Linked DNA regions of Homo sapiens. The protein of the gene in region 1 interacts with the protein of each later gene in a pairwise test. Each region holds a gene or a part of one and is shown in the gene's direction. Other genes may lie near its edges.

What was found.
Region 2: the proteins of MYOM3 (region 1) and RND1 interact in a two-hybrid assay, tested with the Homo sapiens proteins (one large-scale study listed by BioGRID).
Region 3: the proteins of MYOM3 (region 1) and AMOT interact in a two-hybrid assay, tested with the Homo sapiens proteins (one large-scale study listed by BioGRID and IntAct).

Annotation. Positions count from the first base shown.
Region 1 is NC_000001.11:24,108,250-24,113,961, reverse strand, and holds the start of MYOM3 (myomesin-3), read left to right. Parts: upstream 1-1,826; 5' UTR 1,827-1,931; intron 1,932-5,307; 5' UTR 5,308-5,325; coding exon 5,326-5,486; intron 5,487-5,712. UniProt on the Homo sapiens protein: May link the intermediate filament cytoskeleton to the M-disk of the myofibrils in striated muscle.
Region 2 is NC_000012.12:48,855,709-48,860,438, reverse strand, and holds the end of RND1 (rho-related GTP-binding protein Rho6 precursor), read left to right. Parts: intron 1-2,197; coding exon 2,198-2,443; 3' UTR 2,444-3,294; downstream 3,295-4,730. UniProt on the Homo sapiens protein: Lacks intrinsic GTPase activity. Has a low affinity for GDP, and constitutively binds GTP. Controls rearrangements of the actin cytoskeleton. Induces the Rac-dependent neuritic process formation in part by disruption of the cortical actin filaments.
Region 3 is NC_000023.11:112,815,896-112,821,012, reverse strand, and holds part of AMOT (angiomotin), read left to right. Parts: intron 1-1,574; exon of another isoform or gene 1,575-1,688; intron 1,689-5,117.

The DNA of each region.
Region 1 (5,712 bases):
ACTTGTGCTCTCTCTCTCCTTCTCTCGAGTGAGGAGTCCCTGAGGCACCAGCAAGAGTGACAGGTGTAGTGTGGGTGGCCACCTGAGGTCGCAGGAAGGGGTGAGGGAGGGAAGCTGTGCTCTCTGGCTAGGGGCCGGTACAGCCTTCCCCTCACCGGCTCATCCTCTGAGACTCGACCCAGGTGCACCTTCCTGATCACCTCCTGTCGTAAGTGCCTGACTTCCCCTGTAGGTTAGGGTCTGGCATAGGGTAGGTGCCAATGAATGTGAGGGGGAAAGAATTGAGACTGAGGGAATGGCAGGAGAGGGCAAAGGGTGGGAAGAGGTGTGGTGCCGAACACCTATTAACCTCAGTAGGGAAGGCACCAGGTTTGAGAGGCCAAAGAAAAGATCCATAGCCAGCAAACGGAACATGGGGGTTTCAGGAGGCGGAGGTTGCAGTGAGCTGAGATCATGCCACTGCACTCCAGCCTGGACAACAAAGTGAGACTCTGACTCAAGAAGGAAAGAAAGAAGGAAAGAAGGAAAGAAAGAAAGAAAGAAAGAGAGAGAGAAGGAAGGAAGGAAGGAAGGAGGGGGGGAGGGAAAGAAGGAAAGAAGGAAGGAAGGAAGGAAAGAGAAAGAAGAAAGAAAGAAAGAAAGAAAGAAAGAAAGAAAGAAAGAAAGAAAGAAAGAAAGAAAGAAAGAAAGAAAGAAAGAAAAAGAAAGGGAGAGAAGGAAGGGAAGGAAGGAAAGGAAGGAACGTGGGGGTTTGTTAGGGGCTTGCCTACAGGAGAGAGAGTCCACTGGTGATGAACTGGACAGGAGAACCGCCTTACATACAGAAATGGTCCAGGGGCGGCGGGCTGGACAACATACCAGTGGCGGCCGACTGGGCAGGAAAACCTCAGCCCCTTGCAAACAGCATGCAGTTTATAGAGCATTTTCACTTTACACCATCCCCTAATGACCTCCACCTGGCAATCTTCATTTAACCCAAAACTCAGGGCCTCAATCCCCTGTATGGCCAGCGTTCCACCAGAAGGGACGGGACGGGGGCTCAGATATTCATCGTAGGTAAGAAACGGGTTGGCTACTCCCCAGATTCCTTAGCTCGGAACACATATTCAGGTCTTCCACACAGGGTCATTCTTGGAGCGTGCTTCAGTTATCCCTGTCAGGTGCGTTTACCCTATAAGAAGGCCCTTCAGGGGACACTCTGGCAGCCTGAGCAGTTTGCACAGTGAAGCAGTAGGTGGCTCCCCAGCTCCTCCTGCCTGCACCACACCACACACACATGACTGTGGTCAGGGCGGGGGCCGTGTAGTAACTACCGGAGTGGTGGAGGGACCAGGAGCCACACATTGCTGTTTTAGCCAGTGACAACTTCTGAGCACGAAACACTCACTTTTAGGTCATATTCCTTCCACCGTCTTCATGAAGTCCAGGTGCCCAGTCTCACTGTCTCCGTTTTTCAGAAGGCAGTCAGTTCAGGGAAGCTGAGCGCCTTCCCCAGGGCACCCAGTCAGCCGGGGCAGAATTCAGATCAGAACTCCCGACAGCTGAGAACGCCGCACGGGATCTGCCCTCCATACGACCATGCCTGAGCCGTTCCCTCCTTTCCATTTTAACAGGGGCTTGGGTTGGGCAGAAAGGACCCAGCTGAGAGGAGGAGCAGTGTGGGGGGACGCGGCGGACAGCTCCACCTGTCGCTGCTGCCCAGCAGGCTGGAGACACGGAATGGCCCCTCCCCTTGGCCCCCTGTCCCCGATGCCATAGTTCTCATCCATTGTCATTGTACTGTCTCAGTGCTGCTATATTTAAGACGGTGCAGTCTCCGGGATCGCATTCTTCTCCCGGTGCCCGCTGAGCCGAGGGCAAGAAGAGAACAAGGACCCTCTCGGCCTCAGGAATCTTCTCCCCAGAGACTCCTAAGTGGGCACACTGCTTCTGTGAGTCACCCCCAGAAATCAGGGTGGGGGAGGGATGCCTCCTAAGAGTCAGCCACTGGGGAGTGATATCTGTGGGTGCATGTGTGTGTGTGTGTGCACGTGTGTGTGTTTGTGTGTATGTGTGTTGTGTGTTGTGAAAGGAGCCTGGGAAATTTGTGCTGAGGCAGCACCCAAGTGAAAATGGGAGGGGATTCCAGAAACCCCTGCCCCATCCCACTGTTCTGTGTGGCCCTGGGTCTTCTGAGAGCTGAGCTGTCTGTGATGTGAAAGTTGCAAAAAAAAAAAAAAGAGTGGGGGCTGCCCTGGGAACTGGAGTCTTTCCTGTGATGGAGCAGCGATAAGCGGGAGCCAGGCTAAGCTGGCAAGTTCCACGAACTTAGAGCGGAGCTGGCTGAGCCCGGCTTGGCCAACCCCACAGGCAGGGAAAGAGAGCGAGCCCTCGGATCCCAAATCTTAGAGCTGGAAGGGATTTCATCCAGTGCCTGACAGGAAACCGAGGCCCAGACGGGAAAGGAGTTGCCTCAGCTCATGACTGGCAAGGGCAGGATTCGGCCTCGCGGAAGCTGGTGGAGCCACTGGCTAAGAACACGTCCCAGCCTGTGCCACCCGCCGCCCGCAGGATGTGTCTCTGCTCCCAGCCACCATCCGCCCCCATCGCAGCTCCTGGAGGGGTCTTGGCTCAACTGCTGTGCATTCCTCTTTCCCTCCTGAAGAAGGGGAGAGGCCTCCTCGGCAGATGGAGGCTTGGGAGGAAAGCAGAGGGGAATAGGGAAGGCCACGCAGTGGGACCTCTGGCCCAGATTTTTGCACCCCAAGAGAGGGAAGCGGGGGCAGTTTCCCCTCCACGCAGGCACACACAGTGTTCCGGGAAGAGGCACCCTGGTCCTTTGGGAAAGGGCAGTGAGGCCGCAAACTTGTCCCTGCTTAATACCACGCATCAGTCAGTGCTTTAAAAAGAATTGGTAGCTCATCCGCTAAAGCCAGGGGTCTGGTTGCTGGAGGCCCCGAGGTCAGGGACGAGCGCCAGGCCCCTGCCTGCTGTGCTAATCGGGAACAGAGCATCCAGGGGAAGGGAGCCAGTGGCTGGTGCCAGGGAATGTTAACTCTCAGCCACTGGAGCCAGGGCCATCGTGTCCCAGGAAAGCTGGGGCAGAGTGGGGGGTCCTTGCTCCACCTAGGGTGGTACCCAGCAGCTCTCCTCCTGGGCCATGAGGAAGAAAGAGCAGAATGAGCAGGGCTAGCCACTTCTTTGGGTGCAAAGAGAACTTCTTCCATCGGGAGGGAGTGATACGAAGCCAAAGAGGGTGACTGTCCCATTATGTCATTTGAGATGATTAGCAGGAGCCCAGGGAGCTTTAGGGGGCAGCCCTTGGTCCCAGCTAACCCTGCAGCCATCCATTCTCTTTTTCCTGATGCCCACAACTGCAGACACCCAAAAGGAGCAAACTTCTAGGAAGTAGAAGGGGTAAAAGCCCACTAAGACTGACCCTCCACAGCCCGAGCCCCAGACACCTCCACCACATGCCCCTTCCAGGCCAACGGCTCTCCAATAAAGCCAGTGGGCTCACCTTCCATGCCATGGACTTAGAGAAATGGTCACCTAGGTGCTGTGTTCACATCCAGGCAGAAGACAGCCTACACATGCACGCACACACACACATACACACACATGCACGCCCACACACACACACGCTGCCACCTCCAGCAGGACCCTCTAGAGAGGCAGGGGCCAGACAGAGCTGACCCCACAGAAGCTGACAGGAGCAGGCCAAGGCAGGCGGTCATCCCTCTTCTGTTTCCATCCCCACGCCTGGGCAGGAACCCTCCCATGCCAGAAGCCTGCAGACCAGGATTCCCACCTGGAGGAGGTGTGAAAGCCATTCCAGGGATTTTAGCTTTAGCATCAGGGGGGCCCTCAGAGACCCAGCAGTGACTGAAGCCCGGATATGAGAAAACTCAGTGCAAAAACCCACAGCCAGCGGGCACACGGGCCTCCCACACCCCTCGTTTGCCTCTCCATATCCATGGATCCGCTTCCTGAGCCTCCCCTGGGTCAATCTGATCCGGCCCCACTGGGCGCCATCACGGGCCTAGACTTGAGCCTTGGGAATGCAAAGGAGATGTGTACATTGCAATCCCCTTATAAGGAGAAAGGCCCTGTGGCCCACCGTGTCCCCAGCCTCTGCCACGGCCTGGCCTTGAATGGACATATGACATAGAGATCAGAAGGGCTAGGGGTTGGGCTAGGGATTGGCTGCCAGTCATGGCCCCACCATCATGCTGGGTGACCTTGAGCAAGTACTGCCCCTGTTCATCAGTAAAATGGGATAATAATGGTGCTGTCCTCATTTGGGTTATTGCAGGGACTGGGGATAATGCATTTGAAAACTAACATGGGCATGGAACATAGTAAGTTCTCACTATTGTTACTTTTAATTCACTTACAGTCTTGTTGAACAGTCAAGATGCACAGATACAAAATAATTACATAGAGAAAGCATTGTCTGAATCAATGCTAAATTGTGGAGTGCTAGAAAATAAGTACAAAAGAAATGAGAAGAGGGAAAATTCTAGGTGGCCTGTAGTCTTTCTGCAAGGCTTCTTAGAAAAATAATGCTAATGCCTAATACTTATGTTGTACTTACTAAGCCCCAAGCACTCATCTAACCTTCACAACTACCCTGGGAGGTTAGTAGACCCATTTTACAGATGAGGAAACAAAGTCATGAGTCTTTCCCAAGGTTACACACTTGAAAGCTGGGATAAGGAGCTGGGATCACACCCTGTGGGCTGGACTCAGAGTCTCTCTGCTAATTAGCATGCCCTCAGTTGGGGTTTGAAGCATGACTAGAGCCAAGCGGGCCAGGAGGAGGGGAAGGGTGTGCCGGGAGAGGAAACCAGCGTGGGCAAAGGCCCAGAGGTAGGACTGAACATGGCCGGTGCAGGAAGAATGGGGACGCCTGCCCGTCCTGAGTCATAGACACAGCCGTGGACATCACAGTTTCAATTACTCATTGTCTGGGGAGCTGAGGCCCATAGAAGCGAAAACCTTGCCACAGATCATACAGTGAGACAAGGGCTGGGCTGCAGCTGGAAGCAGCTAGAAGCCAGGGCCCTGCTCCCTAACGTGGGGGCTCTGCTCACTCAGCTGGGGAGCACATGGGGTGGAGGAGAAGCCTGGCTCAGAGCCCAAGGCCTGCCTCTGTCACCTTGGGCAGGTCCCTCTCCCTCTCAGACCTCAGTTTCCCTGTCTGCCGACTGCAGAGAGGACACCCCCACCCCCCATCCTGCCAGCCTCCTAGAGATGTTGGGAAGACTGCATGGGAGGGGATAGGCGGGCACCTGGTGGAATGACCGTGGACCTTGGCCTTCACAGGTTGTTGCTCTCGTAACCATGACTCTGCCGCACAGCTTGGGAGGTGCGGGGGACCCCCGGCCCCCCCAGGCCATGGAGGTTCACAGGCTGGAGCACCGGCAGGAGGAGGAGCAGAAGGAGGAGCGGCAGCACAGCCTGCGCATGGGCTCCTCTGTGCGGAGGCGGACCTTCCGCAGCAGGTGGGAGCCACAGGGTCCCCGCCCAGCCACTGCCCTGTTCCCAGGGCCCCCAGTCTGAGGAGGGAGGCCCAGCCTAGCCCTCTGGAGGCTCCAACCTGATGGGGGGAGGGACATCCCTGCTTTCTGAACCCCCTGTCTGAGGGGGGAGACACAATTGGCTCTCTGGAGACCCCCATGTGATGGAAGAGGCACAGCCCTGTCCTCTGGAAACCCTGTTTGAGGAGGG
Region 2 (4,730 bases), on another chromosome or scaffold:
CCAGCCTGAGTGACAGAGTGAGACCCTGTCTCAAAAAAAAAGAAAAGGAGGAGGGGCACTGGGTGCGGTGGCTCACGCCTGTAATCCCAGCACTTGAGAGGCCAAGGCCGATGGATCACTTGAGCTCAGGAATTCAGGACTAGCCTGGCCAACATGGCAAAACGCTGTCTCTACTAAAAATACCAAAAGTAGCTGGGTGTGGTGGCATGCACCCGTAATCCCAGCTACTCAGGAGGCTGAGGCAGGAGAATCGCTTGAACCTGGGAGATGGAGGTTGCAGTTAGCTGAGATTGTGCCACTGCACTCCCACCTGGGCGACAGAGTGAGAGACTCTGTCTCAAGGAAAAAAAAAAAAAAAAAAGGCCAGGTGTGGTGGCTCATGCCTGTAATCCCAGCACTTTGGGAGACGGAGGCAGGTGGATCACTTCAGGTCAGGAGTTCAAGACCAGCCTGGCCAACGTGGTGAAACCCCGTCTCTACAAAAAATACAAAAAATTAGCCAGGTATGGTGGTGCACACCTGTAATCCCTGGGCAACAGAGTGAGACTCTATTTCAAGAAAAAAAAGTGTGATCTGCCTAGGTTGGAGTGCAGTGGCACAATAGTTGTTTATGCAGCCTTGACCTCCCGGACTCAAGTGATCCTCCCTCCTGTCTCCCTAGTAGCTGGGACTATAGGTATGGGCCCCACGCCTAGCTAATCTTTTAACATTTTTTGTAGAGACAAGGTCTCAGTATGTTTCCGGGGTTGTTCTTGAACTCCTGACATCAAGTGATTCTCCTACCTTGGCCTCCCAAAGTGCTGGGATTACAGTTGTGAGTCACCACACCTGGCCTGGAATCTGCATTTTTTATAAGACCCCTGGATAATTTCTTATGTGCATGAGAGCATAGGGTTGGGGGACTGAGTTTCGCTCTTGTCACCCAGGCTGGAGTGCAGTGGTGCGATCTCAGCTCACTGCAACCTCTGCCTCCCGGGTTCAAGAGATTCTCCTGCCTCAGCCTCCTGCGTAGCTGGGATTACAGGTGCCTGCCAACACGCCCAGCTAATTTTTGTTATTTTTAGTAGAGATGGGGTTTCACCATGTTGGCCAGGCTGGTCTTGAACTCCTGACCTCAGGTGATCCACCTGCCTTGGCCTCCACTGCACCTGACCTGGGGAGCTCTTAAGAATACTAATACCGGCCAGGCGCGGTGGCTCACGCCTGTAATCCCAGCACTTTGGGAGGCTGAGGCGGGCAGATCACAAGGTCAGGAGATCAAGACCATCCTGGCTAACATGGTGAAACACCATCTCTACTAAAAATACAAAAAATTAGCCAGGCGTGTTGGCGGGTGCCTGTAGTCCCAGCTACTCGGGAGGCTGAGGCAGGAGAATGGTGTGAACCCGGGAGGCAGAGCTTGCAGTGAGCCGAGATCGCGCCACTGCACTCCAGCCTGGGCAACAGAGCGAGACTGTTTCAAAAAAAAAAAAAAAAGAAAAGAAAGAAAAAGAAGAATACTAATGCCTTGGCTCTATACCCAGAATTTTTTTTTCCTTTTCCTTTTTTTTTTTTTTTTTTTTCCAGAGACAGGGTCTTACTCTGTCACCCAGAATGAAGTGCAGTGGTGTGATCCTAGCTCACTACAGTGCAGAACTCCTGGGCTCAAGGGATCCTCTCTAGTATTTGAGACTATAGTTGTGTGCCCACTTCCAGTGAATTTTTAAACATTTTTTAAAAGTGTTTATTATTATTTTATTATCTTTATTTTTGAGATTTATTTTTGTAATTCCAAAGCGCTGGGATTATGGGTGTAAGCCACCGCGCCCGGCCACCTAGGCTGGTCTTGAACTCCTGGCCTCCTCAAGTGATCCTCCCATCACAGCCTCCTGAGTAGCTGGGATTAGAGGCACTAGCCACTGCCCCAGCTATCCCCAGAAATTCTAATTTAGTTTGGCATCAATATAGTTTTAAGAGTATTCCAGATGATTTATAATGTGCAGTCAGGCATCGTCTTAAGAAAAAGAGGCATCATCAGACAGGGTGTATGCCAAAAAAAAAAAAAAAAAAGAAAAGATAATCGAATAATCTGCAGAGGGTGGTGTTTGGAGACTGGCAGCTGGGTCCCCTCTGGAGTGGCCCTGGGGAGTGACGCACAGAGGCAGCGTCCCAGAGCCATTTTGGCCCACTGCATTAATGCCCTCACCCCCTCCTGCAGGGTTGTGCAATAGCAAAGCAGCTGGGTGCAGAAATCTACCTGGAAGGCTCAGCTTTCACCTCAGAAAAGAGCATCCACAGCATCTTTCGGACGGCATCCATGCTGTGTCTGAACAAGCCTAGCCCACTGCCCCAGAAGAGCCCTGTCCGAAGCCTCTCCAAACGACTGCTCCACCTCCCCAGTCGCTCTGAACTCATCTCTTCTACCTTCAAGAAGGAAAAGGCCAAAAGCTGTTCCATTATGTGAAGTGGAAATTGGAGGGGGGAGACAACCCCCTACTTCCTCCCTTGGGGTGCAGAGGCACGGGGAGAGGGAGGATGAGACAATTTAGGACACTGGACATGAGTTTTTCAGATGGCCACGGTGAGGGCTTGGAAGGAGACAGGAATGGGGCGAGGAAGGAGCCAGGCCCGGCATGAGGACCTGACGCTGAGAGAGAACCATCATACCCCAAGCCAGGCACTAGATTTTGGAGGGGGCGACTACCCCAGTGCCCCCCCCGCTCCAGAGGAAGGAAAGCTGTGGGGGACGGGGGGCATGCTGGCCTCATGGGCTTGGGGGCCTACAGCAGCCTCACCTTCAGCTTCATGCCTCTTCCACACAGCGTTTCCATGCAGGTCAGGGGATGGGAGGGGTCCCTGAGCCCTTCCCTTCCCCTCTAAGGAGGCAGCAACGGAGAGTGGGGAAGTGGAGCGGCAGCTCCCTTGGGGGCTTAGCCCAGGTGCTTCGTAACTGCAATCGGAAGTGCAGGAGCTGGTCAGAGCCAATGAGAAGGAAACCTCATCTTTGCATAGCCCATGCCTCATGGAGAGGTGACATCATACATTCACATGCTTCTCACCTAAGTCCCCAGGGTCCAAGGGAGAAGCCCCAGACCCCCTTCTCTTGCAGAGTGTGGGGGTGGTGGTGCTGCAGGGGCAGGGCTGGGTGGGGGTCACCAGACTTTTTCTGCCCTTAGGGTAGTACAGCTGGCATTTGTTTTATAGACTCTTGTCTTTGGAATTGGGGGGAGGGGGGGAGTGTTTCAATCTGTTATATGTTCTGTGTTTAATGAAGAAAACCTATTTATTAATGAAAAATATAATACATATAAAGAATTTGGCTCCGTATTTTTTTCTGTTTTCTTTAGTTGTTACAATTGGTATTTTTTTTTTTTGGTCTTTTTTTTTTTTCCTTTTTGTGGAGAACAGGGTCTCGCTATATTGCTCAGGCAGGTCTCAAACTCCTGGGCTCAAGCTATCCTCACATCTCTGCCTCCCTAAGAGCTGGGATTACAGGCATGAGCCACCGTGCTTGAGCCCTTTGGTTGATGATAATGAGAGAAAAGCTGTCCTGGGACCCTTTCTGTGGGTTGCAGAGGGGCTGCCTCCACCATTCCCCAGCTCCTCCAAGAAGGAGCTTCTCTCTTCCCCCATCCCCCTGCCCTAGCCCCACCCAAGACCTACTAAACCAAGGAAGGGCTCCTTAGCCCGAGAGCAGGGGTGCAGGGGTTCTCAACCCTGGAACTATTGACATTTTGGACTGGATAATGCTTTGTTGTGAGGGACTGTCCTATGCAGCCCAAGATGTTTAGCAGTGTCCCTGATCTGGTGGATGCTAGAAGACAGCACCCCACTCTCCAGCTATCACACCCAAAAATGTCTCCAGACGTTGCTAAATGGCCCCTGTGGAAAAATTCTGGTTGAGAACCACTGCCCTGGAGAGTCTAGAGGAGAGAAAAAGGTTGGATGAAATCATCAGTAGAGGATCCAAGCTGCTGAGATTCCACCCCACATAGAAGGTGGACAGACTAAGCCAAAGCTGGGGGAGGCTCCTGGGATTCTGGTCTCCTCTGAGTTCAAGGAGAGGTGACATTTGCCTTCATGACCTTCCAATTCCGATGCCTACTGATGGCAGCTCAGGGGCCTTAACTCTTAACTTCCTTTCTCAGTGACTTATAGCTCTTGTTTTCCAAGTGCCATAGTGTAGTGCTAGTGCCAGAAATAAAGTTAGCATGTACTAGGCCAGGCGCGGTGGCTCAAGCCTGTAATCCCAGAACTTTGGGAGGCTGAGGCAGGTGGATCACAAGGTCGGGAGATCGAGACCATCCTGGCTAACACGGTGAAACCCCATCTCTACTAAAATACAAAAATTAGCCGGGCATGGTGGCACGTGCCTGTAATCCCAACTACTCGGGAGGCTGAGGCAGGAGAATCGCTTAAACCCGGGAGGCAGAGGTTGCAGTGAGCCAAGATTGCGCCACTGCACTCCAACCTGGGCAAAAGAGGGAGACTCCATCTCTAAATAAATAAATAAATAAATAAAGTTAGCATGTACTTAATGAGTGTTCAGCACTGTGCACTGTGTTGAGGGCTTTACATGATCACATTTAGACTCATAAATGATAAGAGCTAACATTTGTTAAATGTTTACTATGGGTCGGGGCACTTACGAGATTTTTCTTTTTTTTTTTTTGAGACAGGGTCTCACTCTGTCGCCCACGCTGGAGTACAGTGGCATGACCACTGCTCACTGCAACCTCACCCTCCTGGTT
Region 3 (5,117 bases), on another chromosome or scaffold:
CAATTCACTTTGGACTCCACCTCTAACTTTGCCAGTTTAGGATTTTTTTTTTTTTTTCCCTCTTAACCCAGGTTGATTTCCTAACCCTTTTCAACCTCCTCTGTGCAGCTTTCAAAGGGCAGGAGCCTATGTTCTGATCAGTGTCTTGGAACAGGAAATGGGGTAACCAACAAGGCTACTCAGGTTTAAAAGAGATCAAGAACCAGATTCCCATCTGACCAATGAAACAGAAGACCCAGGGAGGGGTTGGTCTGTTCAAGACTGCCTCACTTAGTGGAAACCCATTCAAGCCAGCAAAATATCAATGAAGCTGGGGGTTTTTATTTTGCTTTTCCCATCAGTATGGAAGAGTCTGTTGATGGGCTGATGTCTGTTGCCTTGTGGGAGGGGAGTGTGTTGGCTGGGGTGTGGAGCAGAAGCCACAGCCCCACTCAGCACACAGCCCGCCTTCCCAGGAAAGCTATTTTCAGAACTCATTCACCAGTATTGTTTGTGATCTGAAATGACTCCCACAGTGTTTGAAGCTAGATGGAAAATTATCTGCCCTTTGATCTGCCTAAATAAATAATGAGGAGCCCAAAGAGGTTTTCTTTTTTTTTCCTTTTCTTCCCATCCTGATTAAACCACCGGAGAAATTTAGCTGCATGTATTTTACAGGAAGATACATATTTTTTATCCTCCCACCTAAGTTATCTGTGGATTTCTCTTTCTTTCTGTCCTCAAAAGCAACAGAGCCCATGATGATCTACCCTTGTTGAGCAGCATTTTAATACACAGTTTTGCTGTAACAGGTTTTTCTCTATGGGAAAGGAGCAGAGTGCTTGATAATGCTTGATGAATAAGCAAACCTAAAATGGCCCTAGTGGGAGGATGCTCCATATGAAATTTGGGTCTGCATCAGGCAAATACTGGCCGTAAAATTGTTGCAGGGCCCTACATGAGGGAGTGGCACCTATTGACAAATTACTGGCAAAAGGAGGTAGTTGAACTGCTTTCCAGAAGTGTACTGCTTTAAGGTGGTGACACATTTTCCCTCCTTTATTTCCTTTAACCAACTAGCTATACAGTTTGTGAGTACCTTTCCAAGTAACTGCTGCTAGCAGCAACCAATTAGAAGACTACATTCTGAGCCCTTAATCCACAAATTACAAGTCAGGATGCAAAGCAAACTCTTTGAACAAATTGCTGTTAAGAAAACATTTGCTTGCTTTTCGAGGTGCAGTGAACTGCTGGAGATTTGCTGTTAAAATGAACAAAATTATAAACAATCCTTTTATTACTTCATCTTTCTTATGCCCTCCTCCCCTTAAAAAATAAATACCTTGAATGCCCAGAACCCCAGATGAGAAACAAGGCAAAGGCTATCTGAATAATTTTAAAATTTCAGAATCTTTGTCTTTCTAAGTGCTGAACCTTTTCTGCATCCTGGGTTTATACATTTATCAACTGCTTTTAAAAATTAAATCATTTCTGTTTATAAAGCAGCCACCTCCTTTCAATTGTTGAAATCATGCCCAGATCTGAGGTTTCTTGAAATCCTTGTTTAGTGGAATCTAAGGGTGACCTAACTCTGTAGTTCAGAGCAGAGCTGGTTGTGCAAGAGAAACCATCAGGAATTTGCAGCCTGCTCCAGGATTCACAGATTCACCGATTCACCATTGCAGAGCCTGGGAAAGGCAGTTTCTGTGGTGAGGATCAATCAAGTTCCAGGCTATTGGGTGGCACCTGCTCTGGTGAGAGTGTGTGTGCAGGATTGCACATGTGTGTGCCAGGAGTGTGGAGTGTGTGTGTGCATGCACATGTGTGCATGTGTGTGTGGCTGGGGAGGGTGAGGGCTCCCAGTCATCGAGGTGGCAGGGTGGAAGGTGCTGTGTCAGCTGGGTAGAGTGGCTTTTACTTTCCCTTTGAGTCCTTACTACTGTCTCTGGGAGGAGTGTACCCCCCACCCTACCCCACTTCCCAGCTTTGGGGAGGATCCTGATTTTAGTCACTGGCCTTTGTCCTGCATGTATGCTATGTCCCCTTTTCTGCAGAGCCCCAGTGGCCCAGGTAGCCTTAGGAAGGAGCAGGATGAGGGGACGGAAGTGGCAGGAGGCAGGTCAGGGCTTGCATGGAATCATGTGATTCTGTTGTCTGCAGGCGGCTTGTTGTTCCTGGTTAACGTGTCAGTGGGGAGCGATTCAGGCTGCTGTGTGCTGGAAGGACCTGGAGAGTGTGCTGCTCACATGGCTGCCACCTTTATTATTACTGTCATTACTTTTACTGTTATTATTTAACTTGGGGTGTATTTTGGCTTCCTCTGACATCCGCCCCCTCCAACTCTCCCTTACCCCGTCATTCCTTAATCTCTTTTTCTCACGGGGAGCTTCACCCCAGTGTTCATTCCGTCCTGCTTTCCCCTGGTGGGTGGATGCTGGAGCCCAGATTGAGTTCTTCACTGAAGGGCTTTCTCTCCCTTTGTGACTGCCCAAGCCATTGCTGGTTTGCAAACCAGCCAGTGACGGGCTGCCTTGGTTTTCCCAACATCACGGTGCACTGAGATCTGCTTCCTTTTCCAGCCTGGGGAATTGAGGGGCAGCTGCCTTGTCTCTGCTTATCTTCATCCTCAGCTTATCTGACCCCAGAGACCTCCTTCTGGAGACCTCATGGTCTCCTCCTTCCCAAGGTCCCTGGAAGGCCATGTGCTGTTGTCCAGGGAATGCAGGGGCCTTTCAGTCTCCAGGCAGGAGGGAGGCCAGTGGCTGAGTTTGTTTGAGAGAGAGGCCTGGGTTGCTTGATGAGGCCCAGGGGAGCTGTGGAGAGAAAGCCCATTTCAGAACTGGGCGTTCAGTCTTTAAAAGAGAATACCTCCCAGGCCTTGGACTGCAAATCCTGGGAACAAAAATGAAGGTTAATATAGTGATTTTTTTCCCTTAAAATTTGAGAGCTGCATTGGAGAACATGAAACTTAAGCCCCTCTTTTCTGCCCACAAAGCAGAAAAGAGACACACAAGCCCCAACAAATCTCAGGACATTATATTTTAACTCTGTAGGCATGTAGAAATTGTAATAGCTCTCATTCAAAGAGAAAAAAGAGCACTTAGTCTTTTACCTGTGAGGAAACTGAAGATCCATAGAATGGAAAATAGGAGCTCTTCACCAAATAAATGTATAAATAACTCCCAGGCTTTTGATTGAATGAGTGCTTTGAGCTCTGGGGAAAAATATTATGTATGGCAGCAACTTTCCAGTTGTACTTATGAGTACCATGTCAATTCTTCTTTGCCCAAATAGTTCGCATGCCCTCTTCAATATTCAGCAATTATTTATAATGACAGATGTATGTGATTGGAAGAATGTGGGTACACCAGAGGCATAGATGGGCCTGAGCGACAGAATCCAGGGTTTGTACAGGTTTGAGGACTCTTGGGGAAGATGTAGGTTATTGGGTATCCATGAGAAAGTGTTTGGAATGATTTTGTAGCTGTAAAAAGCCCTTATAGTTAAGATCTCTTGTAAAGATGGATACATGAACAGTAATGGTAACTGGAGTGTGTGTCTGAGGAATGTGCTTTAGCATCTGGAATGCCAGTTAAAAGTTAATTGCTCCTGGTGATTTGTCCCAGTTCCACCATGAATTTTATGCAATTTATTGCAAAGATTAAATGGATATCCTTTAAGTAACAAGCTAACAAGGTCAGCTTATCTCACTGGGAGGTAGAGAAGTGACTGTAATTCCTATTCCGCCAAAAATGAGAAGACCCCAGTATTTTTGCAATTTATTTGTGACCTCAAGAATAAAATGGGCTCATGCAGATTAAGTAACTTGCACCAAGTTACACAGCTCGTGAGCAGTAGAAGAGGTCTCCAGACTCCCTCTGTTGGGATCCAGATCCCATGCACTTAGCCATCTGTCTTCCCTGGATTGAGAAATATCAACTGTAGAACAAGTGTCCACAGGACATGGGAGCATATGAGGTTAATTGGGCATGAGCTAGGGCATGAACAAGCTTTTTGTCTTCAGTGCACACTGACAGATACTATTCCTGGTAGTGGTGATGGTGGAAGTGATCCATCCACATACTAATTGTTTCCCTTAATGGCTAATAGTCATTAGGTATGAATTATTTATACTTAGGTGTTAGCATTTTGTACCTGGTAATTAGGTACAAAAATGGGAGAGCCACATTAAACAATGTACCAAAGGTCTCTTTCTGGAACTTTCTATGAGCAATAGGTTGGAAATCTAAGTATCAGTGCACAGAAATCAATGCATTATGGCAGTAGAAAAAGCCAGAAAATGGGAATTGGGAAAGAAGGATTCTATCTTGGCACCACCACTCTAATATTTGGCAGATGACTTCCCCTTTCTGGACCTCATTCCCCATCTGTCCAGTGATAGAGTTGAACTAAATAATTTTCTTTTAAGGCCTTTCCAGTTCTTACATTTTGCGATTCATTACATCAAAAATAGTATGTTAGCATTGCTTGTAACCCTCTTCAAGTCTTTTTATGGTTACTGCTAATGGGAATCATTAAATCGTTAACAACTGGAAGCAACAATAATCATTTAGTGTCTCTAATATAAGTATCTACCAATCCTTGAATAGTTTTTTTTCTTTTTTTTTGTGAATGTATGAATTACTAAAGGGAGTTGCAGATAGCAAGATGGGGGTGGTTTTTATGGCTGTTTGTTGTTTCCATCCTGGCAAATGGAACATAGTTTCTAAACTAGGATCTTTATGTGTGCTGGACCACGTGTATAATGTCAGAAAAGGTTTAATTTAAAATAATGAGATGAAAATTACCTTGTAGAAGAATCGTTTGAAATGTTTAGACTTGAGCAAACGGGTGTACAGGTGTGTATCACTACGATTTTCACAAAGTGACCATGGAAGTTGTCTGGTTCTGACCCTCATGGGATCACACCTCTGTTTGTCAGGCAGAGGCACAGAAGGTCAGGCTGGAAAAGGGCTGTGGTCTTTGCAGAGATAGAGCAGGCAGGGTTAGACTTCCCCATAGTCAGACCCTGCCTGCTCTTCATTTTGCAGGTGTCCTGGGGGCATCAGAAGCCTCCTCATCTCACTTTTGTGTGCCCTTCTCCCCCAGTGCCTTAGGAGAGAAATTAACCCGCACCT